Linked DNA regions of Homo sapiens. The protein of the gene in region 2 purifies or fractionates together with the protein of the main gene of each other region. This does not show direct contact. Each region holds a gene or a part of one and is shown on either strand. Other genes may lie near its edges.

Evidence for each region.
Region 1: the proteins of NUP133 (region 2) and RIC3 purify together in Homo sapiens (co-immunoprecipitation; one large-scale study listed by IntAct). This does not show direct contact.
Region 3: the proteins of NUP133 (region 2) and FCGRT purify together in Homo sapiens (affinity purification with mass spectrometry; one large-scale study listed by BioGRID and IntAct). This does not show direct contact.
Region 4: the proteins of NUP133 (region 2) and SIGLECL1 purify together in Homo sapiens (co-immunoprecipitation; one large-scale study listed by IntAct). This does not show direct contact.
Region 5: the proteins of NUP133 (region 2) and UXS1 purify together in Homo sapiens (co-immunoprecipitation; one large-scale study listed by IntAct). This does not show direct contact.
Region 6: the proteins of NUP133 (region 2) and NUP88 fractionate together in Homo sapiens (co-fractionation; one large-scale study listed by BioGRID). This does not show direct contact.
Region 7: the proteins of NUP133 (region 2) and ZMYM2 fractionate together in Homo sapiens (co-fractionation; one large-scale study listed by BioGRID). This does not show direct contact.

Annotation. Positions count from the first base shown.
Region 1 is NC_000011.10:8,140,955-8,145,427, forward strand, and holds part of RIC3 (protein RIC-3 isoform a precursor), read right to left. Parts: intron 1-4,473. UniProt on the Homo sapiens protein: Molecular chaperone which facilitates proper subunit assembly and surface trafficking of alpha-7 (CHRNA7) and alpha-8 (CHRNA8) nicotinic acetylcholine receptors.
Region 2 is NC_000001.11:229,484,017-229,488,489, forward strand, and holds part of NUP133 (nuclear pore complex protein Nup133), read right to left. Parts: intron 3,598-4,473; coding exon 3,450-3,597; intron 2,513-3,449; coding exon 2,355-2,512; intron 130-2,354; coding exon 38-129; intron 1-37. UniProt on the Homo sapiens protein: Involved in poly(A)+ RNA transport. Involved in nephrogenesis.
Region 3 is NC_000019.10:49,518,823-49,523,295, forward strand, and holds part of FCGRT (IgG receptor FcRn large subunit p51 isoform 1 precursor), read left to right. Parts: intron 1-2,872; coding exon of another isoform or gene 2,873-2,991; intron 2,992-4,473. UniProt on the Homo sapiens protein: Cell surface receptor that transfers passive humoral immunity from the mother to the newborn. Binds to the Fc region of monomeric immunoglobulin gamma and mediates its selective uptake from milk.
Region 4 is NC_000019.10:51,253,549-51,258,021, forward strand, and holds part of SIGLECL1 (SIGLEC family-like protein 1), read left to right. Parts: intron 1-2,380; exon of another isoform or gene 2,381-2,484; intron 2,485-4,193; exon of another isoform or gene 4,194-4,352; intron 4,353-4,473.
Region 5 is NC_000002.12:106,141,925-106,146,397, forward strand, and holds part of UXS1 (UDP-glucuronic acid decarboxylase 1), read right to left. Parts: intron 3,552-4,473; exon of another isoform or gene 3,447-3,551; coding exon 3,266-3,446; intron 1-3,265. UniProt on the Homo sapiens protein: Catalyzes the NAD-dependent decarboxylation of UDP-glucuronic acid to UDP-xylose. Necessary for the biosynthesis of the core tetrasaccharide in glycosaminoglycan biosynthesis.
Region 6 is NC_000017.11:5,386,017-5,389,154, forward strand, and holds part of NUP88 (nuclear pore complex protein Nup88), read right to left. Parts: intron 2,945-3,138; coding exon 2,786-2,944; intron 1,937-2,785; coding exon of another isoform or gene 1,889-1,936; coding exon 1,763-1,888; intron 1,655-1,762; coding exon 1,589-1,654; intron 1,451-1,588; coding exon 1,370-1,450; intron 1,095-1,369; coding exon 968-1,094; intron 811-967; coding exon 692-810; intron 325-691; exon of another isoform or gene 254-324; coding exon 190-253; 3' UTR 1-189. UniProt on the Homo sapiens protein: Component of nuclear pore complex.
Region 7 is NC_000013.11:20,063,212-20,067,684, reverse strand, and holds part of ZMYM2 (zinc finger MYM-type protein 2), read right to left. Parts: intron 3,235-4,473; coding exon 3,140-3,234; intron 835-3,139; coding exon 666-834; intron 447-665; coding exon 295-446; intron 1-294. UniProt on the Homo sapiens protein: Involved in the negative regulation of transcription.

The DNA.
Region 1 (4,473 bases), on a different chromosome or scaffold from region 2:
AAAATACTTTACAGACAAGCAAATGCTGAGAGATTTTGTCACCACCAGGCCTGCCCTAAAAGAGCTCCTGAAGGAAGCGCTAAACATGGAAAGGAACAACCGGTACCAGCCGCTGCAAAATCATGCCAAAATGTAAAGACCATCGAGACTAGGAAGAAACTGCATCAACTAACGAGCAAAATCACCAGCTAACATCATAATGACAGGATCAAATTCACACATAACAATACTAACTTTAAATGTAAATGGACTAAATGCTCCAATTAAAATACACAGACTGGCAAATTGGATAAAGTCAAGACCCAACAGTGTGCTGTATTCAGGAAACCCATCTCACGTGCAGAGACACACATAGGCTCAAAATAAAAGGATGGAGGAAGATCTACCAAGCAAATGGAAAATAAAAAAAGGCAGGGGTTGCAGTCCTAGTTTCTGATAAAACAGACTTTAAACCAACAAGATCAAAAGAGACAAAGAAGGCCATTACATAATGGTAAAGGATCAATTCAACAAGAGGAGCTAACTATCCTAAATATATATGCACCCAATACAGGAGCACCCAGATTCATAAAGCAAGTCCTGAGTGACCTACAAAGAGACTTAGACTCCCACACATTAATAATGGGAGACTTTAACACCCCACTGTCAACATTAGACAGATCAACGAGACAGAAAGTCAACAAGGATACCCAGGAATTGAACTCAGCTCTGCACCAAGTGGACCTAATAGACACCTACAGAACTCTCCACCCCAAATCAACAGAATATACATTTTTTTCAGCACCACACCACAACTATTCCAAAATTGACCACATACTTGGAAGTAAAGCTCTCCTCAGCAAATGTAAAAGAACAGAGATTATAACAAACTCTCTCAGACCACAGTGCAATCAAACTAGAACTCAGGATTAAGAATCTCACTCAAAACCGCTCAACTACATGGAAACTGAACAACCTGCTCCTGAATGACTACTGGATACATAACGAAACGAAGGCAGAAATAAAGATGTTCTTTGAAACCAACGAGAACAAAGACACAACATACCAGAATCTCTGGGACGCATTCAAAGCAGTGTGTAGAGGGAAATTTATAGCACTAAATGCCCACAGGAGAAAGCAGGAAAGATCCAAAATTGACACCCTAACATCACAATTAAAAGAACTAGAAAAGCAAGAGCAAACACATTCAAAAGCTAGCAGAAGGCAAGAAATAACTAAAATCAGAGCAGAACTGAAGGAAATAGAGACACAAAAAACCCTTCAAAAAATTAATGAATCCAGGAGCTGGTTTTTTGAAAGGATCAACAAAATTGATAGACCGCTAGCAACACTAATAAAGAAAAAAAGAGAGAAGAATCAAATAGACACAATAAAAAATGATAAAGGGGATATCACCACCTATCCCACAGAAATACAAACTACCATCAGAGAATACTACAAACACCTCTACGCAAAAAAACTAGAAAATCTAGAAGAAATGGATAAATTCCTCAACACATACACTCTCCCAAGACTAAACCAGGAAGAAGTTGAATCTCTGAATAGACCAGTAACAGGAGCTGAAATTGTGGCAATAATCAATAGTTTACCAACCAAAAAGAGTCCAGGACCAGATGGATTCACAGCCGAATTCTATCAGAGGTACAAGGAGGAACTGGTACCATTCCTTCTGAAACTACTCCAATCAATAGAAAAAGAGGGAATCCTCCCTAACTCATTTTATGAGGCCAGCATCATTCTGATACCAAAGCCGGGCAGAGACACAACCAAAAAAGAGAATTTTAGACCAATATCCTTGATGAACATTGATGCAAAAATCCTCAATAAAATACTGGCAAAACGAATCCAGCAGCACATCAAAAAGCTTATCCACCATGATCAAGTGGGCTTCATCCCTGGGATGCAAGGCTGGTTCAATATACGCAAATCAATAAATGTAATCCAGCATATAAACAGAGCCAAAGACAAAAACCACAGGATTATCTCAATAGATGCAGAAAAAGCCTTTGACAAAATTCAACAACCCTTCATGCTAAAAACTCTCAATAAATTAGGTATTGATGGGACGTATTTCAAAATAATAAGATCTATCTATGACAAACCCATAGCCAATATCATACTGAATGGGCAAAAACTGGAAGCATTCCCTTTGAAAACTGGCACAAGACAGGGATGCCCTCTCTCACCACTCCTATTCAACATAGTGTTGGAAGTTCTGGCCAGGGCAATTAGGCAGGAGAAGGAAATAAAGGGTATTCAATTAGGAAAAGAGGAAGTCAAATTGTCTCTGTTTGCAGACGACATGACTGTATATCTAGAAAACCCCATTGTCTCAGCCCAAAATCTCCTTAAGCTGATAAGCAACTTCAGCAAAGTCTCAGGATACAAAATCAATGTACAAAAATCACAAGCATTCTTATACACCAATAACAGACAAACAGAGAGTCAAATCATGAGTGAACTCCCATTCACAATTGCTTCAAAGAGAATAAAATACCTAGGAATCCAACTTACAAGGGATGTGAAGGACCTCTTCAAGGAGAACTACAAACCACTGCTCAAGGAAATAAAAGAGGATACAAACAAACGGAAGAACATTCCATGCTCATGGGTAGGAAGAATCAGTATCGTGAAAATGGCCATACTGCCCAAGGTAATTTACAGATTCAATGCCATCCCCATAAAGCTACCAATGACTTTCTTCACAGAATTGGAAAAAACTACTTTAAAGTTCATATGGAACCAAAAAAGAGCCCGCATCGCCAAGGCAATCCTAAGCCAAAAGAACAAAGCTGGAGGCATCATGCTACCTGACTTCAAACTATACTACAAGGCTACAGTAACCAAAACAGCATGGTACTGGTACCAAAACAGAGATATAGATCAATGGAACAGAACAGAGCCCTCAGAAATAACGCCGCATATCTACAACGATCAGACCTTTGACAAACCTGAGAAAAACAAGCAATGGGGAAAGGATTCCCTATTTAATAAATGGTGCTGGGATAACTGGCTAGCCATATGTAGAAAGCTGAAACTGGATCCCTTCCTTACACCTTATACAAAAATCAATTCAAGATGGATTAAAGCCTTAAACCTTAGACCTAAAACCATAAAAACCCTAGAAGAAAACCTAGGCATTACCATTCAGGACACAGGCATGGGCAAGGACTTCATGTCCAGAACACCAAAAGCGATGGCAACAAAAGACAAAATTGTCAAATGGGATCTAATGAAACTAAAGAGCTTCTGCACAGCAAAAGAAACTACCATCAGAGTGAACAGGCAACCTACAAAATGGGAGAAAATTTTCGCAACCTACTCATCTGACAAAGGGCTAATATCCAGAATCTACGATGAACTCAAACAAATTTACAAGAAAAAAACAAACAACCCCATCAAAAAGTGGGTGAAGGACATGAACAGACACTTCTCAAAAGAAGACATTTATGCAGCCAAAAAACACATGAAAAAATGCTCATCATCACTGGCCATCAGAGAAATGCAAATCAAAACCACAATGAGATACCATCTCACACCAGTTAGAATGGCAATCATTAAAAAGTCAGGAAACAACAGGTGCTGGAGAGGATGTGGAGAAATAGGAACACTTTTACACTGTTGGTGGGACTGTAAACTAGTTCAACCATTGTGGAAGTCAGTGTGGTGATTCCTCAGGGATCTAGAACTAGAAATACCATTTGACCTAGCCATCCCATTACTGGGTATATACCCAAAGGACTATAAATTATGCTGCTATAAAGACACATGCACACGTATGTTTATTGCGGCATTATTCACAATAGCAAAGACTTGGAACCAACCCAAATGTCCAACAATGATAGACTAGATTAAGAAAATGTGGCACATATATACCATGGAATACTATGCAGCCATAAAAAATGAAGAGTTCATGTCCTTTGTAGGGACATGGATGAAATTGGAAATCATCATTCTCAGTAAACTATCGCAAGAACAAAAAACCAAACACCGCATATTCTCACTCATAGGTGGGAATTGAACAATGAGATCACATGGACACAGGAAGGGGAATATCACACTCTGGGGACTGTGGTGGGGTGGGGGGAGGGGGGAGGGATAGCATTGGGAGATATACCTAATGCTAGATGACGAGTTAGTGGGTGCAGCGCACCAGCATGGCACATGTATACATATGTAACTAACCTGCACAATGTGCACATGTACCCTAAAACTTAAAGTATAATAAAAAAAAATTAAAAAAAAATTAAAAAAAAAAAAGAAAGAAAATACAATGTGGTCTCAGGAGAAAAGAGAACTAGAAACTGGAAAGCCATCAGGATCCAGGACAGGTACTTTCACATTCTAGCTCAATCTCTCTCCTTCTCTATGGGGCCATAAGGTTTTTTCTTTGTTTTTCTGTGCACATCTTCTTTATTCTTTCTCTGCAGACCATTTCTCTAGCTCCTTTGTGCACACAGGGGAAGATGGTCG
Region 2 (4,473 bases):
ACATAAAATAATCCATAATTTAAAAAACATGTTATACCTGCAGTATTGCAGAAAGGCAGCTTTCAGCAACTTGATTTTATCTTCCTGGGCTATAGTTTCATTCTTTGTAGTGGTCTCAAAAATCATACTCTGCAAAATAACAAAGTATAGTTTAGAGGTAAAGGCATCTGAATATTCTTAATTATTGGACTAAAAACTGCACCCATCCTATGATAGCAACTCCGCATATACACGAGCTGTTTGCCGTATTGTCTGTACCAGGGGTGTCCAATCTTTTGGCTTCCTTGGGCCACACTGGAAGAATCGTCTTGGCCCACACATAAAATACACTAACATTAATGATAGCTGATGAGTTAAAAAAAAAAAAATTTATGTTTCAAGCAAGTTTACGAATTTGTGTTGGGCTGCATTCAAAGCCATCCTGGGCCGCATGCAGCCCATGGGTTGTGGGTTGGACAAGCTTGGTCCATACCAATTATTCATATACTTATTGAAACACTATAAATAGCATCAAATGATCAACCAAAGTCATACAGAAAAGGTACAGGTAATTCAGGGATTATGTTGTAAGTAAAATAATTTGGACATTTCATCATAATTAACAGAATCTTTTTATAGGTTTGCTCTTACACGACTCATCACAGTGTATACTACCTAAGCATAATGGTTGATTACAAATTTAAACAACGGTTTAGAAAAATTTTAAAGAAATGGAATACTATAAAATTGCTTCAGAATGTATAACAGTATTATAATAACCATACAATTACAAAATAGATATTAATCCTTTTTTGTAATCGTATTAATTACAAAATACAAGGTATTTTGTACTTTGTATAATTTTGTATAATTACAAAATACAAAATGCAAGGTATTAATCCCTTTTGTGAAAAGAAAAAAAAGTTAAAAATTGTTTCTTTCCTTTAAAACTACACTTAATCACTTTAATTTGAATTACAGAGGTAGTCTATATATTTCATACACTATTCAAATGGAAATTACCCCAAACAGTATTAATTATTTTTAGTCTTCTGTAAAAGAATGATAAAAATCTTATGGATAGGATATTTCAGGTTTCAAGACAACAGAATAAAATTGGTAATTTTTACCTGGCTATTCCTCTCAAAAAATCATCCCAGAATAAAAAGAAACAGAAATACAAGCTCCTTGGAAATATCTGTGATACTAACTACAACAAAGGAAGATAGAAAGCAGAAGGAATGGGAAATGGCCCCGCTGACAGGAGATGAGGCCACCTATGCATGGTGCAGAGGACAGGTCCTGAGGATTTGAGGACAATAGAAAAGGGAAGTTCTGGGATGACAGCTGTGCAGATGGAAGGTTTCTGGAGACTTGACTTTGGGAAAAACTACATTGAGGGGCACTCTACAGAACTCCTGGAGTGTGTAAAAAGATTAAGTCACATATGAAAGGAAAGTGAGAAAATACAAAACGAGGTCATTATACACTCCAAGAGTCACACAAAGTTCTATAATAAAGGACATGTAATCAGTATTTGGGATCAGCAAACCATAAACAATATTTACATTGTCATTACAATGAAAAAAATTTATGTTAGAATGATAAAGGCAGAGGAAGGAGTATAAGGTAACCCAAAACCTCATTTTCTGTAGTAGAAAATCAACAGATGCATCAGGAGACAGGAATATATGTACATTACTTAGATATATGGAGAAAAATACCAGAATAAATCACTAAAAGGCTTAAATGTAGTTGCTCCAGGCAAAGAGGACAGAAGGGATGAGGAAGATAAAAAGAACTAATGTCTGCATCATTACGTCTTTGAAAACTGTCTCAGTTTTGAGACCATTTGTATAAAATAATCTGATAAAACTAAAAATTAGGCTGGGCATGGTGGCTCCACGCCAGTAATCCCAGCACTTTGGGAGGCCGAGGCGGGAGGATTCTTGAGCCCAGGAGTTTGAGACCAGCCTAGGCAACATAAGGAGATCCTGTCTCTACAAAAAATAAAAAATTAGCCAGGTGAGATGGCGCATGTCTGTAGTCCCAGCTATTTAGGAAGTTAAGAGGGGAGGACTGCTTGATCCCGGGAGGTTGAGGTGAGGCTGCAGTGAGCTATGATTATGCCACTGCACTCTAGCCTGGGCAACAGAGTGAGACTCTGTCTCAAAAACCAAACCAAACCAAAAAACAAAAAATTAGCCAGGCACCTACTGGGAAGTCTGAGGCAGGAGGATTGCTTGAGGCCAGGAGTTTGGGGCTGCAATGAACTACGACTGTGCCACTGCACTCTAGCCTGGGTGACAGCGTGAGACACTATCTCTAAAAAATAAATAACATAAAAACTTCAAATTCTTATCGAATCACATTACCTCACTGTTTGGTCCAGCAACTGAAGATGCTAAAGACCCTTCCAAGTCTTCTGCCAATATAGACACATTTTCCCTTGAAGTAATAGACACCAGTCCACTGTTTCTAGAAAAAATGATAGGAACACCACCACAGGCACCAGCACCTAAAACACTATCTCCTAAAAGAAAGGAAAACAGAGTCAAATACATCTAACAATAACAACAAAATGCTATGTAAAAGCTACCACCCTAAGCAGAAAATCATCTTGATGATATATTAAGCACATTTTTTCCTTTACAACATTAGTCCTACTTCGAACTCATCCTTTACATCCCAGAATCAAATGCTAAGAACCGGTTGCTATCTGAAGAAGCAGGCTCTGTGTCTTTCAGCTTTAAGGACAATAAAAACTAGCCTTGCCAGACAGCAGTCAGTCTAGTAAGCCAAAAAAGAAAATTATTCCTTCTGCAAAACTCAGAAGAAGAGCTTTTTCAATCCTGTGGAGTTCTCTTAATTCTGACTTTAACTTACCACATCAGTCAATGGGGACTGGAAAAAAAAAAAAAAAAAAAAGGTCTAAGCCTACCTGGCACCTTAGTAACATCCTACCCACCCTCTGTCAAGGTTCTTGTGCTGGGACTAGAAAACCTGGGTTCCATGCTGTTGCCTACCTGCACTCTGTCCTCTGCCCAACCCCTTCAGCTAAGTATCTGCTTGGTTCTTCTTCAATCCTGACCAGCCCCCCTGCATAAGTCCAGCACCTGAAGCTCTTCTTATCTAGGGGTGTGGAAAAGTTAAAGCATCAACTCAGAATATGTCACTTTTACTAACTAGGAATAAGCAATTACTTCTCTTGGCAATAGTTTTTTGCTTCTTGGCATCTTCTCCTGGAACAAATGTTACTATCTTTGTCTGTAAATATAATAGTTTGGAAATTCTAGTACCCTTTTGGTTTCTTAGTAGGGTTATGGCTTCAGCTGCTGTAGTTGTGGTATGAAATGTCTCAGAAACATTTGAAAGCAGCATGCTTGAAGTGACATTCAGGGAAAGAGAAAAAAAGCACTCAGAATGACTAATGAGCTCACCAATCATGCTTTCTAAAACTGCTACTGTACCTTGTGCATTAAAGACAATTTTCTCCTGGGGAAGAGAAAATTTCCCAGTTCCTGTGGAGCACACATAGACAGCACTTTCGTTATACAGATAGGCAGTCTGGTTTGAAAAGTTTGGGACCGTCAACTGACACAAAATCAGGTCTTCAGACTGAAAGTTAAATTTAAGATTACATTTAACAAGAAGTAAAACAAAAATATTTGTATGATTTTTTAAATTCATTTTTGTACATTATTTCATAAAAATATTTCACCAATTCTCTTTGTAAAAATCTGAACACTACCCATGAGATGATTAACAAAACATGACAGAGTAAGTTTATAAACATCAATTAGACATATATTTTGTTGACTTGCTTATAATTTGCTTTTTTAATTTTTTTTTTTTTTTTTTTTTTTGAGACAGAGTCCCACTCTGTTGCCCAGGCTGGAGGGTAGTGGTGCAATCTTGGCTCTCTGCAACCTCTGCTTCCCAGGCTCAAACAATTCTCCTGCCTCAGCCTCCTAAGTAGCTGGGATTACAGGTGCATGCTACCATGCCCGGCTAATTTTTTTGTATCTTTAGTAGAGATGGGGTTTCACCATGTTGGCCAGGCTGGTCTTGAACTCCTGACCTCAGGTGATCCACCCACCTCAGCCTCCCAAAGTGCTGGGATTACAGGCGTGAGCCACCGCACCTGGCCTAAATTGTTAATTTCCAAAATTAACAAATTTGGAAAACATTTCCATGATGATGACTATAACTAGAAGCCTATGATAAATTCAAAGGAGAAAATGAAAGCACTAAAATTCGTTATATTAAGAATTGGCAATTTTTTATAAATATTCCCTGATAAACAAACATTTTTGTTCTTACCTTACTGCCAAGATATTAATGACAAGAAAACTTAGTTGATTTGTTTACATATAAAATCAGAGGGAGAAATAAAAATAAATCTCATTAAATAAAATTAGAATATGCTAAAAATGATAAGCTGTTATTAAAGAAGTAATTTTACAGAAATATTAAATGCGAGGTCCTAGAATT
Region 3 (4,473 bases), on a different chromosome or scaffold from region 2:
CCGCGCTCGGCCGTATTTTTGTTTTTTTCTTTTTTTTGGAGACGGAGTCTCGCTCTGTCACCCAGGCTGGGGTGCAGTGGCGCGATCTCAGCTCATTGCAACCTCCACCTCCCAAGTTGCACCAATTCTCCTGCCTCAGCCTCCCGAGTGGCTGGGACTACAGGCGCCCACCACCACGCCCGGCTAATTTTTTGTATTTTTAGTAGAGACAGAGTTTCACTGTGTTAGGCAGGATGGTCTCGATCTCCTGACCTCCTGATCCGCCTGCCTCAGCCTCCCAAAGTACTGGGATTACAGGCTTGAGCCACCGCGCCCGGCCGGATTCCAATTTTTTACCAGATAGGTGTTTTGCAAATATTTCTTCCACTCTCTAGGTTGTCTTTTCATTGTTTTAACTGTGCCTTTCACAAAGCAAAAGTTTTTAACTTTGATGAAATCCAGTTTATTCTTTTTTTTTTTTCTATCGTGGATTATGCTTTTGGTGTTTAATCTCAGAAGTAATCACCAAACCCAAAGTCAGCTAGATCTTCTCCTGTGTATTTTAAGAGTTTTAAAGTTTTGCATTTTACAGTTAGGTCTGTGATTCATTTTCAGGTAATTTGAGTTACTTGTGATCTTGAGTGTCTTTTGATTTACAGGTTTCCCATTTTCTTTTTGTTTTTTTTCCCCCTGTAATTGTGGTTTGAAGAAAGTCAGTTTATGTCCTATTGAGTTTCTCCTAGACTGGATTTTGCCCTTTGCATCCTGTGATGTTGCTGGAAATAGTCCTCCTTCTCTTCTTTAAAGGAGCAGCTCCATCTAGAAGCTTGGTCAGATTCTGGTTCAATTTTTATGGCAAGAAAACTTTCTGGGTAGTTGGTGCGTATGTCTGTGTGCATAGGCTGCAAACATCTGCTTGCTTCTGTGCTGTTCTGTGGACCACTGGATTCGGGTGTTGTTATGAAGTTCTTTGTCAGGTTTTCTCCTGATGGTTTTAGCGGATAGCAATGGCCATTGCCTTAATCTTTTTTTTTTTTTTTTTTTTTTGAGATGGAGTCTTGCTCTGTCGCCCAGGCTGGAGTGCAGTGTTGCGATCTTGGCTCACTGCAACCTCCGCCTCCCAGGTTCAAGCGATTCTGCTGCCTCAGCCTCCTGAGTAGCTGGGATTACAGGTGCGTGCCACCATGCCTGGCTAATTTTTGTATTTTTTTTGGAGAGATGGGGTTTCACTATGTTGGGCAGGCTGGTCTTGAACTCCTGACCTTGTGATCCACTTGCCTCGGCCTCCCAAAGTGCTGGGATTACAGGCGTGAGCCACCGCGCCCGGGCTTTTTTTTTTTTTTTTTTGAGAGGGCGTCTCCCTCTGTCACCAGGCTGGAGTGCAGTAGCACGATCTCGGCTCACTGCAACCTCCACCTCCCAGGTTCAAGTGATCCTCCTGCCTCAGCCTCCTTAGTAGCTGGAATTACAGGCACACACCACCACACCCAGCTAATTTTTGTATTTTTAGTACAGACAGGGTTTCACCATGTTGGCCAGGATGGATTTTTTTTTTTTTTTTGAGATGGAGTTTCACTCTTATTGCGCAGGCTGGAGTACAATGGCATGATCTCAGCTCACTGCAACCTCCGCCTCCTGGATTCAAGTGATCCTCCTGCCTCAGCCTCCAGGGTAGCTGGGACTACAGGCATGCGCTGCCATGCCTAGCTAATTTTTATATGTTTAGTAGAGATGGAGTTTCACCATGTTGGCGAAGCTGGTCTTGAACTCCTGACATCAGGTGATCTGCCTGCCTCAGCCTCCCAAAGTGCTGGGGTTACAGACGTGAGCCACCATGCCTGACCTGGTTTGGTATTTTGTTAAACAGAACCAAAGGCCAGACAGATTTTCTGTGCTTGGATTTAGTCTATATTGGAAGTACCTTGAGGCTGAAGGCACGTGGCTGTGAGCACGACACAGGAAGATACAGATTTGCTGAAAAGAATAGTGAACATAAAGCAGAAGCCAGAACTGCTGATGGCCGTCAGCCCGGTCCCTCCATTCCACCTGACGGTGCAGCAAATTCTGCCGACTTGCCAGAGAGGCAGCTCCAGGAGGGAGAAGCTGCTGTGCTTTCCTGAAGCAGCAAATGTGTTTTCTGCTGAGCAACCAAAACCAAGATCCCAGCCAAGACCCACGATTGCCCAGATCCACCCTCCCTGAAAGGAACTTGGGCAGTAATGCCCAGTCCTAGGCAGTTGCTGAAATCTTTGCCTTTTATTTTCTTTTTTGAGCTGGGATCTTGCTCTGTCGCCCAGACTGGAGTGGAGTGCAGTGGCACAGTCATAGCGCCATGTAGCCTTGGACTCCCAAGCTCAAGAGATCCTCCCGCCTCAGCCTTACAAGTAGCTGGGACTATAGGTACACGTCACCATGCCTGGCTAACATTTTCTATTTTTTGTAGAGATGGGGTATTTGTTGCCAAGGCTGGTCTAGAAGTCCTGGGCTTGGCCGGGCACAGTGACTCACGCCTGTAATCCCAGCACTTTGGGAGGCTGAGGCAGGCGGATCACGAGGTCAGGAGTTCAAGACCAGCCTGGCCAATATGGTGAAACCCTGTTTCTACTAAAAATAGAAAAATTAGCTGGGCGTGGTGGTGTGCGCCTGTAATCCCAGCTACTCTGGAGGCTGAGGCAGGAGAATCGCTTGACCCCAGGAGGCGGAGGTTGCAGTGACCCAAGATTGTGCCACTGTACTCCAGCCTGGGCGACAGAGACTCCGTCTCAAAAAAAAAAAAAAAAAAAGGAAAAGAAAGCCTGGGCGTAAGGATCCTTCTGCCTTGACCTCCCAAGTGCTGGAATTGCAGGCATGAGCCATTGCACCCGGCTTTTTTTTTTTTTTTTCTTTGAGACAGGCACTTGCACTGTTGCCTAGACTGGAGTGCAGTAGCGGGATTAGAGTTCACTGCAGCCTCAACCTCCCAAGCTCAAGCGATCCTCCCACCTTACCCTTCCTGAATGGATGGGGCCACAGGTGTGTACCATCACACGTAGTTAATTTTTAAACTTTTTCAGAGACGGGGTTTCTCCATGTTGCCCAGGCTGGTCTTGAACTCCCGGCTTCCAGTGATCCTCCTGCCTCAGCTTCCCAAAGTGCTGGGATTACAGGCATGAACCACTGCACCCAACCTTTTTTCATTCCCTTAACGAAACCTTTGGATGAACAAAAATTCTTAATTTCAGTGAAGTTCAGTTTATCGACTTCAATTTATACATTTTATAAAGTTTATGAATTTTTTTTTTTTTTTTTAGACGGAGTCTTGCTCTGTCGCCCAGGCTGGAGTGCAGTGGCTATACCCAGGTGTGATCATAACTCACTCCAGCCTCAAACTCCTGGGCTCAAGGATTCCTCCTGCCTCAGTCTCCAGAGTAGGTGGGACCACAGGCACATCCACCACACTGGCTAATTTTTTTTATTTGTAGTGGAGACTACGTCTTACTGTTTGCCCAGGCTGGTCTCCAACTCCTGGGTTCAAGTGATCCACCTCATTCTCCCAAAGCGCTGGGATTGTAGGAGTGAGCCACTGCACCCAGCCTGTCTGCTAATATTATGTTTAAGAGTTCTGAATCTTTTTTTAAATTTTTTAAAATTTTTAATTTTTTATTTTTTTTGAGACAGTCTTGCTCTGTCGCCCAGGCTGGAGTGCAATGGTGCAATCTTGGCTCAATGCAACCTCCGCCTTCTGGGTTCAAGCGATTCTCCTGCCTTAGCCTCCTGAGTAGCTGGGATTACAGGTACACGCCACCATGCCTGGCTAATTTTTTTGTATTTTTAGTAGAGATGGGATTTCACCATGTTGGTCAGGCTGGTCTCGACCTCCTGACCTCGTGATCCTCCTGCCTCCACCCCCCAAAGCGCCAGGATTCTAGGTGTGAGCCACCACACCTGTCCTGAATCTATATTTATGAGAGACATTGGCCTTAAGCTCTCTTTTTTTTTTTTTTTTTTTTTTTTTGAGATGGAGTCTCGCTCTGTCACCCAGGCTGGAGTGCAGTGGCGCAATCTCGGCTCACTGCAAGCTCCGCCTCCCGGGTTCACGCCATTCTCCTGCCTCAGCCTCCCAAGTGGCTGGGACTACAGGCGCCGGCCACCACGCCCGGCTAATTTTTTGTATTTTTAGTAGAGATGGGGTTTCACCGTGTTAGCCGGGATAGTCTCAATCTCCTGACCTCGTGATCCGCCTGCCTCGGCCTCCCAAAGTGCTGGGATTACAGGCGTGAGCCACCGCGCCTGGCCAAGTTCTCTTTCTTATAATGTGCTTTGTTGTCAAGATGATGCTGACCTCATAAAATATGCTGGGAGAGTGTTTCCTCTGTTTTATGGCCTGAAGAGTTAGTGTAGGAATAGAATCATTTCTACATTGGAAGAATTCACTAATTGATGTCTTCTGGACCTGGAATTTTAGTTTTTGGAAAGTTTTAAACTATGGATTAAAAATTTTAAATAGGCCGGGTG
Region 4 (4,473 bases), on a different chromosome or scaffold from region 2:
AAGTGACTTACCCAGAATCACCCAGGAAGTAGCGACAAAGATTAGGTCTTCTGACTTCTGGTCCACTTCCAGGAAAAATCTAAGTATACTGTGTGTCACATCAGGGCTAGCTGATTTATTCTTATATTTTATTCATGAGGAAGTGAATTTGGAGAGGAGAATGAACTTCACCATGCTTATACAGCAGTTTTTAAGGCAAAATAGAATCATGAAAAAGACACCACAGTTGTAGTCAAAGGTTGAGTCTGAAATCTATGAACGTAACGGCTGCATGTCTTGGGGCCAGTCATAGTACTTTTGTGGATCTCTGCCTTCCTTTTGGAAGTGTTGATAATGAGATGTACCTCACAGAGTTGTTGAGACTAAGATAAAAGATAAAATTTCTACGTCTCTAGAGTTGTAAATGGCAACCATAGTTTCTCATTAGATGTTAACCAAAAAAGTAGTTAACAGTCATGGCATGATTCAGTCATTCCCAATTGATTCACAGCAGGGCACAGTGGCTCATGCCTGTAATCCTAGCACTTTGGGAGGCTGAGGCGGGAGAATTGCTTAAGCCCAGGAGTTCAAAACCAGCCTGGGCAATATAGCAAGACTCGACTCTCTCTCTACAGAAAATATTTTTTTTAAATGAATTGGGTCTAGTAGTGTGCCCTTAAAGTCCCAGCTACTCGAGAGACTGATGTGGGAGGACTACTTGAGCTCAGGAGTTCGAGGCTGTAGATAGCTGTGATTGTACCACTGCACACCAGCCAGGGTGACAGGGTGAGACTCCATCTCTTTAAAAAAAAAAAAAAAAGGATTGATTCACAGTATCCAAATAGTAGAAACAACCCAAATGCCATCAACTGATGAATGGATAAACAAAATGTGGTCTATCCATACAATGGAATATTATTCAACGATAACAATGAAAGGAGTACTGATATCTGGTACAACATGAATTAGCCTTGAAAGCATGCTAAATGAAAGAAGCCAGACACAAAAGACCACATATTATATCATTTCATTTATATACAATGTCCAGAATAGGCAAATTTATAATTACGGAAAATAGATTAGTGGTTGCCTACAACTAGGGGGTGGAGTTGGGGTTTGGGGAAACGGGGAGTAAATGTTAATAGATATTGGTGTTTTTAGGGAGGTGATGAAAGTGCTCTGGAATTAGGTAATGGTGATGTCTGCATATCTTTATGAATATACTAAAACTCCTAAATTGTGTGCACTTTAAAATGGTGAATTTATGGTATATGAATTATAGCTCAATAAAAATAAAAAAATTAATTATAAAAAGGTTAGCTACCAGTAGACCCATGGCTAAATAAAAACCTGAAAATTTTAGGGAAAACTAGATACTCACATGGAAATTGGACACTTAGTTTATACCAAATACAAAAATAAACTCAAAATGGGTTAAAGACTTAAATATAGCCAGGCGCAGTGGCTCACGCCTGTAATCCCAGCACTTTGGGAGGCCAGGGAGGGTGGATCACTTGATGCCAGGAGTTTGAGACCAGTCTGGCCAACATGGTGAAACCCTGTCTCTACTAAAAATACAAAAGTTAGCCAGGCATGGTGGAGCACGCCTGTAATCCCAGCTACTCAGGAGGCTGAGGCACAAGAATCGCTTGCACCCAGGAGATGGAGGTTGCAGTGAGCCAAGATCATGCCACTGCACTCCAGCCTGGGCAACAGAGTGGGGACCCTGTCTCAAGAAAAAAAAAAAAAAAGACTTAAATATAAGAACTGAGATTGTAAAACTACTAAAAGAAAACATCGGAGAAAACTTCTGTATATTTATATGTAATACACAATAAAAATTATTGGTTTGGGAAATAGTTATTTGGATATTTCTGCAAAAACACAGGAAACAAAAGCAAAAATTGACATGCAAGATTGCAGCAAAGTAGTTTCTGAACAGCAAAGGAAACAATCAACAGAGTGAAGAGACAACCTACAGAATGGGAGAAAATATTTGCAAAGCATCCATCTAATAAGGGGCTAATATCCAAAATACATAAGGAACTCAAACAACTCAATAGCAAAAAAATCAAATAACCCAATTAAAAAATGGGCAAGGACCTGAATAGGCATTTCATAAAAGAAGACATACCAAAATGGCCAACAAGTATATAAAAAAAATGCCTGACATCACTAATCATCAGAGAAATGCAAATTCAAACCACAGATATCACCTTATACCTATTAGATGGGTATATCAAGAAGGCAAAAGATAGCAAGTGTTGATGAGGATGTGGGGAAAAGTAAACCTTGTACACTGTTGGTGGAAATGTAAATTGGTATAACCACTATGGAAAATAGTATAGAGTATCCTTTAAAAATTAAAAATAGAACTACCATATGATTCAGGAATCCCACTTCTAGGCATGTATTTGACAGAAATGAACTCAGTATCTTGAAGAGATATCTGCACTCCTGTGTTCATTGCAGCATTATTCACCATAGCCCACACGTGGAATCAACGTAAGTGTCCATTAATAGATGAGTAAAGAAAATATTATATATGTATACACACATGCACGCACACACACACACACACCCCATTCAAATAATGTCATTTTGTTCAACATTGTCTAATCATAAGAGAAAAAAATCAATTCCCAGCCAGTACCAGTATCTGTGTGGAGTTTGCATGTTCTTATATATGGTAAAATTGGTTTCATTTTACATCATTTCACTTAAAGCAGCAGTTTCCAAGAACTGAATGATGATGTTAAGTGAGGATTTATTGTGCACACACACATACACACACAGTGGAAGTTATTCAGCCTTAAAAAAGGACATCTTGCCATTTGCAGCAACGTAAATAAACCTGAAAGACATTATGCTATGTGAAACAAGTCAGACACAGAAAGACAAGTACTGCATGATCTCACTTATATGTAGAATCTAAGAAAGTCAAACGCATGGAAGCAAAGTATAGAATGGTGGTTGCCAGGGCTGAGGGCTAAGGGAAATGAGATATTGATCAAGGGGCACAAAGTTTCAGCTAGGCAGAATGAATAAGTTCTGGAGGTTTCATGTGCACCATGGTGACTATGGTAAATAACACTGTACTGTATACTTGAAATTTTGTGACAGTAAATATTAAGTGTTCTCACCACCAAAAAAATGGTAACTGTGAAGTGCTGATTATGTTAATTCACTGGATTGTGGTAATCATTCCACAGTGCATACATACATCAAAACGTCATGTCGTACACCTTAAGTATATACAATTTTTATTTGTCAGTTATACCTCAATAAACCTGGAATTAAAAAACTGAAAATTCTATAATCTCATCTCTGATCACTGCTCTAACCATAGGTAAGCACTGGTATCAAATTATACATCATTCTAGATCTTTGTTTTACTCATTCATGTATGTATAGTTTTGAGTGTATTATATATGAATATGTAGATACATATTTACATATTATATATATAAAGCTTTTATATAAATGACAAATGATCCAGTTTTCATTTAAAGATTGTGAAATATTTCAGACATATAGAAAGATATAAATATGGTATAATGAGCATATACCCACCACCAGCTTAATATTGAAAACACTGGCTGGGCACGGTAGCTCACACCTGTAATCCTAGCACTTTAGGAAGCCCAGGTGGGAGGACGGCTTGAGCCTAGGAGTTCAAGACCAGCCTGGGCAACATAACAAGATCCCATCTCTACATAAATTAAAAAATTAGTCAGGCATGGTGGCACATGCTTGTAGTCCCAGCTACTTGGGAGGCTGAGGTGGGAAGATTGCTTGAGCCTGGGAGGTCAAGCCTGCAGTGAACTGTGAATGCTCCGTTGCACTCCATCCAGTCTGGGTGACAGAGCAAGAAACTGTCTCAAAAAAAAAAAAAAGAAAAGAAAAGAAAGAAAACACTACCCCTGGTATACTCCCTTCCCCAAACACATCTCCCACTCTCAAACATAGAGATCGCTGCTATTCTGAATTTGACATTTTATTCTGTGTACTAAGGAACTTAACCTTGCCTGAAGAGAAGTCTGGCCTTTGCCCTTGGCTTCTGGAAGACACTCCCTAGCTCTTAGAATGTCACACCTCATAGGGGTGTCTTTGTTTGCCCAGGGACCTTGCATCACACTGAATATTCTAGAAATGTGATTTAGGATGAGGGCTGGCCACACCAGATAATGTTAACAATGTGATTTAGAGTGGAAGCAATACCAGATAGTCTAACAATGTGATTTAGAATAGGGGCTTTGGATCAAATGGTATCAGCTCAACTTCAGGAGGAGCTGGATGCTAAGATCCACCATGAGGGAAGTCACCATGTTACACGATGGAGGCCCAATAAAAACACTGGACACAAGGCTTGGGTGAGCTTCTTTAGTTGACAGTACTATGCATATTGTCACACATTATCACCAGGAAAGCTAAGTTATGCTGTCCATGACTCCACAGGGAGAGGATAACTAGAAGCTTTGTGTGGGGAACTTC
Region 5 (4,473 bases), on a different chromosome or scaffold from region 2:
CAACGGCACTATCTTGGCTCACTGCAACCTCCACATTCTGGGTTCTAGCGATTCTCATGCCTCAGCCTCCTGAATAGCTGCGACCACAGACATGCACAAGCATGCCCAGCTAACTTTTTGTATTTTTGGTAGAGACTGGGTTTCACCGCGTTGCCCAGGCTGGACTGAAACTCCTGAGCTCAAATGATCCACCCTCCTTGGCCTCCCAAAGTGCTGGGATTATAGGTGTGAGCCACCATGCCCAGCCAACTTCCTCAACAGTTTATAGAAAGATTAAAAATAATTTTCTATTTGCTTTGTAAAATACCTTTCTATATTTTCTTTAACATGTATGTATTATTTTCATCATCAGGAAAAAAGTTTCTTTTGAAAAGAGAAAAATATTTCAGATTCTCTTCCATCTCATTCTTTATCAAATATATAAACAAGAAACCTAATTCTTTCATTTAGTTCAAAGTATGTTTAATCTCTCTTGAGATTTTTCCTTTGTCTCATATCTTATGTAGAAGTTTGTTGTTTCATCACTAAATATTTTTGTAATTTTCCAGATATCTTTCTGTTACTAATTTCTAGTGTAATTCCACTCTGGTCTGAGAGGACACTTTATAGCACTCTATTCTTTCAGGTTGGCTGAGGTGTCTTTTATGGCTGAGAATATGATCAGTCTTGGAGAATGTTCCATGTGGGCTTCAAAGGAAGGTGCATTCTGGCATTGTTGGATGAAGTGGGCATTGTGAGGGCAGAAAGAGTGAAGAGATGGAGGGCAGCAAGGGGGAAATTATCAAGGGCACAGAAGACCTGATGCCAAGGTTGAGGACCCGCTGAAGGAGAAAGTGAAAAACAGGCTTCAAACCACAGAGGCAGAGAAGCATCTTATGCTCTCCCAACATAAATGCCAACTGAGGGAACGCAATACTCTGAGCAAAGGACAAAGCACCAGTCATTTATTGTATGACTTCATTCAATGTGTGGGTGTGTGGGTGTGTGTGTTTGCATGTATGTGTGTGTGTGTGTGTGTGTGTCCTACACACAGTCACAGAATTGGCAGAAATGGCCTAGAGCAGCTTTGGTATCAAAGCTCGCAGTTAAAGAAGATAATTTACTTATTAAAACACCATTTTTACTAAGTTCTGGCTTCTCAGTGGTACTGAAATTATATAAACAATAGTGTCATAAAATAAATGTTTCTTGCCATGTGCTAAAAAAGAGAAGAGAGTAGTAATATTAATAGGTATCATTTGGGGGAGGTCAAGGTGGGCGGATCATGAGGGCAGGAGATGGAGACCATCCTGGCTAACAGGGTGAAACCCCGTCTCTACTAAAAAATACAAAAAATCAGCCCAGCATGGTGGCAAGTGCCTGTAGTCCCAGCTACTCAGGAGGCTGAGGCAGGAGAATGGCGTGAACCCGGGAGGCAGAGCTTGCAATGAGCTGAGATCGTGCCACTGCACTCCAGCCTGGGCAACAGAGAGAGACTCCGTCTCAAAAAAAAAAAAAAAAAAAAAAAAAAAAAAGGTATAATTTGGGCAGCACTTAGTGAAATGAGGGCCCAGTGCTGTGCTAAGTCCTCACAGTAGTTTTCTATTGCTGCCTAATCAAATTTAGAGGCTCAAAAAATATCCATTCACGATCCGATCTGACAGGTCTACAGGACCGGGCACAGTATGGCTCAGCTGGTTCTCAGCTCTGCCTGCCCCCAGGCAGAAATCAAGGTGTCAGCAGGGCTGTGTTCCTTTCTTCAGAGGATGATTCAGGATGACAGCAAAATTCAGTTCCCTGAGGCTGCAGGACTGAGGTCTCCTTACAGGCTCTCAGCAGGGAGCCATTCTCAGCTTCCAGAGGCTGCCAACACTCTCCCGCACATGGCTCCTTCAAAGCCAGCCAGGGTAGGTCAGGTCCCTTGCACACTGCAAACCTCTCCAGCTTCCCTTCTGCCTGGTCTCCCCGCGGTATCTCTTCTACCCAGTCTCTCTACCTGACTCTTCCATTCTCTGTTGCTGCCTTTGACGGTTCATGTGACTATGTGGGGGCACACCCAGATAATCCAGGATCATCCTCATTTTAAAGCCAGCTGGTTCATAACCTTGATTCTATCAGCAAAGTCCTGTGACAGCACCACCTAGCATCTTGGGTTGAACAATGGGAAAGGGCATCTTAGCAGGGAACTGTGAGAATCTGCTTGCCAGGCCCTGTCACATGTATGACCTCAGTTAACCCCACAGCAATCCCAGGAGGAAATCCAAGAGGAAAGTGAGCCCACTGAGCTATAATCTACATAGCCTGTTATACTTTACAAAAACTACAGCTTCACTCCAAAATGAATCCTAAACAGATTACATAATTAAACGTTTAAAAATGAAGCAAAAAACCAACCAACAAAATTAACACCATGGCTGCTTTCTAAATATTAGATTAAATATTCATCTCATCTTGGAACGGTTAGAGCAGAAAGAGAACAGAAGAAACAGCAAGAAGAATATGAACAGATGAAACTATGTTATAAAATGTCACTCAAACGAAAAGGCAAAAACTTTTTGCCTTTGTGGGAAAAATGCTAAATACAAGCCCAACAGTTAACATTCCTATTACAAAGAACTCATACTAAAAGAATATTTTTAAAATGGACTAACAAAACCATTGGTATTTCTCTGGTGAATTAACATGTTAAATTCTAACCATATTTAGTAACCAAAGAAATGTACATTGAACCAATGGTTTTCTATCAAATTAGCAAGATCAAGGGGTTGGCAGATTGGGTGCTGGTGAGGACCTGCTTCCTGGTTCATATATGCATCTTCTCGCCACGTCCTCACACGGTGGAAAGGCCAACGGGGTTTTCCCAGGCCTCTTTTATAAAAACACTAATCTCATTTGTGACGACTCTGTCTCCATGAACTCATCACCTCCAAAGGCCCCACCTCCTAATACCATCACTGTGGGGCTTGGGATGCCAACATATGAATTTGGGGTGACACCAACATTCAGACCACAGCAGATGTGTACTACAGGAAAGTTACTTCAACAGGTCCATGAAGTTCAGGACCAGGGGTGCCACGTAGGAGAGAAGACGGCTATTCACACTGTTATAACCACTCGTTATCACACAGACTAGGACGGCACCTCATACATATTGAGACATTTCAAAAATAAAACCCAACATAGCTTTCAATGTGCTGAGTCAAACAGCTTACCCTCAGGAATCCCGCAGCTCTGGCAAGGCCACCTGCGGAGCTCTGAATAATAACAATGTGCAGTTTTCACTCACCCTCGATGTAGAGGGGCTCCACCACGTCGTGGTTAATCAACTCGAAGTTCTCATGTCCGATCCAGTGCTCCACGTTTCTCTTCCTGCCCGTGAAGAAATTGTCCACCACGGTCACCTCGTGGCCGTCCATCATGAGTTTGTCAGTTAGATGGGAGCCCACGAACCCTGCGCCTCCTGTTATCTGCATCCGGACAGCGTGTGCAGAGCATTCCCAGAAAAAGCACATGAGAACACAGTGAGGACCAGCTCCACGGAGAGACATCTCTGGTGCAGCCACGACTTAAAACTCAGGAGCAAGGCGGGGAAGGAAGACAGCAAAGGTTTTAAGGTAGCATCTTGACTCTTACTGCAGAACAAAGAGGTCATACTATCTGTAAACTCCTAAGCAGCCTAAAATTTCAAACTACCAGTCTTGGAAGAATACAGAAAAATCATAGTTACAAATTTCAAAATGTCTTTGCTGACTGAGAATTTCCCATTAGTCAAAGGTTCTTGTTTTATAACAAATGGGATGCTGGACATAGCTCACGTGGCTTTAATATTACTGCTGAGAACTTTAAAAATTACTTTATAGAAAAAACGATTAGCAAAATGCAGAGATTTGGTGAACTACCAAGAAAAAAAAACTTAATATTTAAGTTAGATTCAAAAACTGCAGGAAAAACAAATATCTTTTAAATTGTTTATGAGAACAAATTAATAAGCAATACATGCTGTTTGTAGACTAAAGCCCTAAACGCCTAAGTCCACTGTGTGGTTAATTTCTGAATGGTGATGTGAACCCAGTGTGGTATACACTCCCAGCCACAGAGCACGATGAGGCAGCTGTGAGGGGTCTTGACGGTAACTCAGTAATAACAAAACCTAGACCCCTGCAAAGGTGAAAAGTCAACTGCGCTTGAAAAATACTTTTAAGTTGAACACAGGTATTTTATTCAAATTAAATGGTGTAACTGGAGGAGGATAAAGGGAATTTCATCTGGGGGAAGGTTATAGGCGGTGGGAGTGAAAAGAATAGGCTCAGAAAACAGACGTGCCATGCACAACTCAATTCTCTAGCCTGCTGTATCCTGTTCTCCACTCTGCCTTCTCTTCACCAAAATTCTCATTCATTTCACCCTTCTGTTTCAAACGGAAAGTATTAATAGGAAGACAGCAATCCTTTCTACCTAAAATAAAAGGTATACAAACTCCTAGGTCTATGGTTT
Region 6 (3,138 bases), on a different chromosome or scaffold from region 2:
TAAAGCACATTCCAAATTTTAAATAAAAGCATTTACTCAATTATTATAAAACAACATATTTAAAAAGATGAACCACACCAAAGGTCATCAAAACACCTTTTTATAAATTAGATAATTCTACCTGTTTTACAATATGGGTTTAAGCCTTCAATGGTGTTCAGTTCAGGTGTGAGTCAGCTCCTGGTGGTGTCAGAAGTTTACATGATTGCGGATATCATTGATTTGCTTCACCATTTCCCTTATATGTTCACCCCTGTAAAATTGTAAAGTCACTCACTTTTGGAATTATAATAAACCATTTATATGGATTCTTAAGAATTTAAACTGGTAATGTTGAAACATCTAAGAACTGCTTTGCTAAAATTAACAGCTGAAGGTTTCAGGTGGATAGCAATAGTGTTCACTATTCATTTAAGGTGGCAAACGGTGCAAGTACTGGAAATATTTTTGAACATAATTACTGTAAAATACCTTTGGCCACACAACAAAATCATGTTACTAGAAGGTCATCCCTTTCAATCCTCCCACCATAGTCATTTCTTAAGTCCCTATGTATCATGTGGCTCTCATCCCAGTAATTACTTGACATGCAAATACCAAGATTCAGGTTTCTATTAAGACAGGTTGATTCTGGCATACTGTAAAGGAAAAACTATCTCACGATAATAGCTGATTGGAAGTATTTACTTACTCCTCTTTCAGGATGGACTGAATGCACTTTCGCTGGTAGGCACTGAGAATAATGGTGGGTTTTGGAAGACTCAACACCTTCTCCATCTTTTGCTGTTGATAATCCTTTTTCATAGTAACCTTAAGTATTAAAATAATAGATATTTTGGCAGTGGTTTGCCACACATTTTCACAGTATCTATTTGAATCTGTTCTTTTTACATTTTTGTAAAATTTTCTGTAGAATAAGTGCTTTAAGAAAAATTACCAAATTTAGCTAGTTTGGATCTATTCCTACCTGTTTGATGGCATTGCCCAAATGTCGAAGTTGATCAGGTATCAGCTGTAATTCTTTCTTCATGTCTCGCTCACTATCAGAGAGAACTGGGAGCTCAGAGTGAAAACTGTGAAGTAGTTTTTTCATCCTTTAGAAAAGGCAAGCAAACATCTCAATTTAAGGTCTCTACTAATTAGGAGAAACATAATCACAAGCTCATAATTCATGAATCTGGTGTTTCTGAAGTAGGCCCCATAGGAAGGGTTAGGGGAGAGCCTCATGTTTTCCCCAACATATACTTCAGAGGAGAGGCAGGGGGATCAGTTCAGTTCCGTAGGTATGTAAGCACCTGCCAATGCCCATTTTCTTAAATATCGTTGTTAGTACCTGACTAGGTAACTAAATGTTATACAGCCCACTGACCTGTTCATGATATCCTCTTGTTTTTCTTTAGCTTCCTCATATTTGTCAGCTAAACGCTCAGCCATTTCCCGCAGACTTTTCCTAATGATGTAAGACACAAGAGACTCTTGAGGTCCACCCCTTGATGCTGAAACCACCTAATGTGGCTCAGCATCTTAGGGTGAGAATATGGTTCCAGTCTTACTGACCTATTGTATTCTTCTTATTTTTGACACTTACCTCTCTTCTCGACAATAACTGAGATCTTCTAGTTGTTTCTTTTTTTGGTCACATAATAATTTGACCCTTTAAAAACAAAAAGAAATAGAGTTTATTCAGAAGCCAGGTCTAGGCTACCATACAGCATCAGCTACCAGCCAGGGATCGATGGTTTGTGAACACAGGACATCATACCTCCGCTGAATCTCCTCCTTTGCCAAGTCCTGTTTGAGAATGTACTGCTCTCTGAACACCTGGGTGGCTCTGCTGAGGAGCTGAAGGCATTCTTCAGGAGGAGGGGCTATGTCCTTTTCAGAAGCTCTTAAAAACAAAGTTTCTACCTTTATTTTCCTTAGCTGAGTAAAACAACTGAAAATAAATAGACTCAAGTCACAGGTGCTTTTTAAACTTTTTATATTTTTAATTTATTTATTTGAGATGCAGTCTCGCTCTGTCACCCAGGCTGGAGTGCATTGGTGCTATCTCGGCTCACTGCAACCTCCACCTCCCAGGTTCGAGCAATTCTTCTGCCTCAGCCTCTCGAGTAGCTGGGATTACAGGTGCCCACCACCACGCCTGGCTAATTATTGCATTTTTAGTAGAGACAGGGTTTCACCATGTTGGCCGGGCTGGTTTTGAACTCCTGACCTTAGGTGATCCGCCTGCCTGGGCCTCCCAAAGTGCTGGGATTACAGCTGTAAGCCACCGTGCCCAGCCTAACTTGAGACGAGTCTCACTGTCGCCCAGGCTGGAGTGCAGTGGTGGGATCTCAGCTCACTGCAACCTCTGCCTCCCAGGTTCAAGCGGTTCTCCTGCCTCAGCCTCCCAAGTAGCTGGGATTACAGGCATCTGCCACCACACCCAGCTAATTTTTTTTTGTATTTTTAGTAGAGATGGGGTTTTGCTGTGTTAGCCAGGATGGTCTCGATCTCCTGACCTCGCGATTCACCCGTCTTGGTCTCCCAAAGTGCTGAGATTACAGGTGTGAGCCACCACGCCCGGCCTAGCCTAACTTCTTTTTAAACACTTCCTGTTTATCATTCTCAGGTGCCACTTCCCTCCTGCTCCCCATTCACTAGCTGATCAAATATATCCAGTTTCTTCCAAATTTATCACAGTAAAAAGTATATGAAACAGATGAGGACAGAAAGGATGCACAGTAATTCTGAAGACAGAAGAGAACCCATTCATAAAACCGCTATGCCCAAGGTTGCATACTTCAAAAATGCTGGATTGGCAACACTACGTTGCAAAATGCTTCTAATATGCTTTTCAAAGGAATCTGGGGTTTCAGCCAGAACACGGAGGGGAGACTCTGCCACTTCAACATCTTCTCGAGTACAAAGCAGGGGAGGAGACGCTGGATGGACTGTACTTCTGCAAAATAAGTAAGTAAATTGAATTCTACCATGGAGTGATTTACTGTATTACAGGAAAGCAGAAACCACATTAATCCAGAACTTTCAGAATATAAAATAAAGTGTAACTTTTGTAAAAGTGCAAGAATGCATGTTTTCCACCTTGAAAAGGTCACTTTGGGAAGCTACACCCTTATTATTCCAATGCCCCTG
Region 7 (4,473 bases), on a different chromosome or scaffold from region 2:
GAAACAGACCTATTTACAGAGTTATGACATTTTTCTGTTTACATGTAGATCAGCATGGATCTATAGCCAGATGTGGCTACATATCATGCCTTATAATGTGAATTCACTTATCTGCAATGGGTAAGGAAAGAATGTCATCCTGATTATCATTTATATATAAATGGCAGCAAACATACAACTTTGTAGATGTGTTTCTTGGTAAGTCAATAAAGGTTCCATAATGCTACAGAAACAAGAACTACCACAACTTTTCTTATTAATGTTATACTTGAAAGCAGCCATCAAATTACTAACCTCCTGTATTCCAAGGCAAAGGTAATAGATGCTGTCAGGTGCATAATTCTCTCCATTTGGCCGTCGGATCTCATTGACAAAATGAGCTAACCCATAGTTAAGCTCAGCTGTGGTGTGAGAGAGTAGATCCTCTTTTAACTTTACTGATTTAGCTAAAAATACATAAAATAAAAAATAATTGTTATTATTTAGCGTCTTATTAAGGTTAAGAAACTTTCTGACGTTATTCTTTGTAAGAGCTCTGAAGTAAAATAAAATGCATTCTTACAGGTATTTTAAGTTACATTTATGTTTTTTAAATTTAAAGGTACTCAATAACAGAAATCTTGATTTTAAATAGGACTTAGGAGAAACAAAATTAAAACACTTACAAGATTTTAACTCATCTAATACCAGAAGATCTTCATCAAGTTGCCTAGTTTTGACCCAGTGTTTCCATGCATTTACGCCATACGTATATTTGAAAGGAAAGCTGCATTCTGAATTGTCAGAACTATCATCATGAGACTGGTATCCTGATACAGCCTTTCTCTTGGCTCCCTATTAGTAAAAAACACCATAATAATATCTTTTTTAAAGCCTACATTATTTCATTACTTTATACAAGCCATCTCTCAACAAAGGCAAATTACAATTGACCCTTGAGCAACATGGGTTTGAACTGCAGGGGTCCACTTGGACACGTATGTTTTTCTGTGTGCCTGCCTCTCCAACCTCCTTCTACCTCTTCCAATCGTGCCACCTGAGACAGCAAGATCAACCTCTCTCCTCTTCCTCCTCAGCCTACTCAACTTGAAGACAATGAGGATGATCTATTTCCACCTAATGAATCGTAAATATATTTTCTCTCCCATATGATTCTCTTGATAACATTTTCTCTAGCTAACTTTATTATAAAAATACAGTATGTAGCATATAAAATATGTGTTAATCAACTGTTATCAGCAAGGCTTCCAGTCAACAGTAGGCTACTAGTAGTTAGCTTTTTAGGGAGTCAAAAGTAATACATGAATTTTTGACTGTGCAGGGGGGCTCAGTGAAGAGTAGGCTACTAGTACTTAACTTTTTAGGGAGTCAAAAGTTATACACAAATTTGTGACTGTGCAGGGGGGATCAGAGCCCAACCACTGCATTGTACAACGGTCATCTGTAATTACAAATATAGTTATCTGTTTAATCTGTCATAAAAATATAGTTATTTGTTTAATGTGTCATGAAATTAGAAAAGAAAAAATGAAATATAGGTATTTGCTTTGAACTGACTGGTATTCCTGAATCTGACAACAGTCAATTAATATTCCAGGAAATGTGATGTTTCTACATAAATCACTTTGTGCAACAAAATCATATTAAATTCTGTGGTGAGAGTCACCAATGATGAGAAAATAAATATAAGACAATAAACTAATAATCTAAATATTACTGTAACAGAAACTGAAGAACTTTTCAACAACTCCACCTTATAGAGAGTGACACTTAAGTACTTTTCACTTTTTTATTTTATTGTTTTATTTTTGTTTTTTTAAGACAGGGCCTTGCTCTGTCACCCATGCTAGAGTTTTGTAATCACGGTATCTCCCCTGCCAGGTAAGTATCCATGCTGGAGTTCTGTTTTGAGGAGAGGTCTTGCTCTGTTGCCCAAGCTGGAGTGCAGTGGCACGATCATAGCTCACTGCAGCCTCGATCCTCCTCCTGGGTAGCTGGGACTGCAGGCACGTGCCACCATGCCTGGCTGGTTTTTATTTTTTAGTTTTTGTAGAGGTCTCACTATGTTGCCCAGGCTGGTCTCAAACTCTTGGGCTCCACCAATCTTCCCGCCTCAGCCTTCCTGAGTGCTGTAAGTGCTGGGATTACAGGTGCCACTGTGCCTGGCCCCCTTTTCACTTTCCTGATGGCACTGTTTGCAATGCAAAAGTTTTTAATTTTGATGTAGTCCAGTTTATTTATTTATTTTTCCTTTTCTTCCCTGTGCGTTTGGTATCTTACCTAAGAAACTGCCTAACATAAGGCCATTAAGATTTAGGCCTATGTTTTCTTCTAAGAGTTTTATATTGTTAGCTCTTACATTTAGGTCTATGGCTCATTTTGAGTTAATTGTTGTGTTTGGTGTCAAGCAGAAGTCCACCTTCATTCCACTCCAAGTATTCTCTCCCTTTTCCGGTTTTTTTTCTTTCTTTTGGGGACAATTTGTGAAAGCTATCTTTCTTAAGGTATTTTTAAAACCTGCTTTATGTTGGAAGTCAGAAACACAGAAAGTTGACAGAATATTATAACAATTACACTTGTTAATGCATGTAGATTTGGTCTACCTGAATGATCAAACTGTCCAGCATGTCTTTCTATGTGTGTTGGTATGCCTAAAAGAGACCAGAAATAATAAACTGTGTACTTCAACCCCACTGATCATCTCATCAGAAATAATCGTGGAAAAAACAGCTCCCTAGAAAACAGTCTAAATTTTTGTCAAATAATTGAACTTACTACTTTAGCAACTGTTTTCTATTTTGACCTTGTATCAATACAAGTTTAGTTGAGGTATCAACTAAATCTGAGATATTTTTATTACTTAGAAACAGTAATAAATTATTACTAGAAATAAATTATTACTACTATTATTACTAGAAATAGTAATAATTACTATTTCTATACAAATAGAAATAGTAATAAATAATAGTAATAAATAGCAGTAATATATTATTACTATATTCTATATAAATAGAAAATAAATTATTTTCCAACCTAGAAAACAAAATATGTTCCCATATTCTCAGGCACACTAAAAGAACACTGTATCCTTGTTTGCCTATAGAGAAATATTGTTATATAGGCTATTAAGTGAATGTACCTTTTTTTTAGATCGAGGTCTGGGCTGTTCCTCATATTCTTCGCCAAAAACAGGTGGTAATAAAAATTCATTTTCCATATCAAGCTCCTCAGCAGCTGACAACCAAATCAGAACTTTTATTTTAAATGAAATAGCACAGGGTTACATAAACACAGCCAACAAAGAACTAACCACAGGATGTAAACCAGCATTCATACATGGGGACAATCTAGGCTGGGCTGGGGAGTAAATGACTCATTGTACCTAACATGGTTTGTGAATTCTGACAAACACTGTTCAAACTCCTAAAAACATATATAAAATGAATATCAACATAAAATTTTCATGAAAATGTATGATACCAGAAAAATTATTATAGTCTGAAATCCAATTACAAGATCTAAATGGTCTTGGTACAAATCTGATTCAATCTATTAAATGTTTTTTCCAAAAACTAATGTTTTACATTCTACTCAGTGTGCTCATTAGCCATCCATGGATTAAGAAAATAATGAAAAATGGGGCACACTTATTTTACAAAAGACCTGAAAATAATTTTTCCTTTGAAGGTGAACTTAATTTTCAAAGGATCTTAAAAAAAAGCTAACTATATATATTATATATATAAAAACTATATAATATATATAAAATATATATTATATATAAAATTATATTTATATTATATATTGTATATATTTATATATTATATACATCATGATGTATATAATATATAAAATTATATTTATGTATTATATATATTATATATTTTTTATATATATATATTTTTTGAGACAGAGTTTTGCTCTTGTTGCCTAGGTTGGAGTGCAATGGTGCAGTCTTGGCTCACTGCAACCTCCGCCTCCTGAGTTCAAGCAATTCTGCCTCAGCCTCCCCAGTAGCTGGGATTACAGGCACTCACCACCACGCCCAGCTAATTTTTGTATTTTCAGTAGAGACGGGGTTTCACGACGTTGGCCAGGCTGGTCTCAAACTCCTGACCTCAGGTGATCCACCCACCTCGGCCTCCCAAAGTGCTGGGATTACAGGCATAAGCCACCGCACCCAGATGCTAACAACATTTTTAAATTAAAAAGGACACAAACACTTCTTTAAACTTTCTATAATGAATTACTTCTAGAATTTTTTTTTTTTTTTTTTTTTTTAAAGACAGGGTCTCACTCTGCTGCCCAAGCTGGAGTGCAGTAGCACAATCTCGGCTCACTGCAACCTCTACCTCCTGGGCTCAAGCAATCCTCCTGCCTCAGCCTCCCGAGTAGCTGGGATTACAGGCATGCACCACCACGCCTGGCTAATTTTTATATTTTTAGTAGAGACAGTGTTTCACCACATTGCCC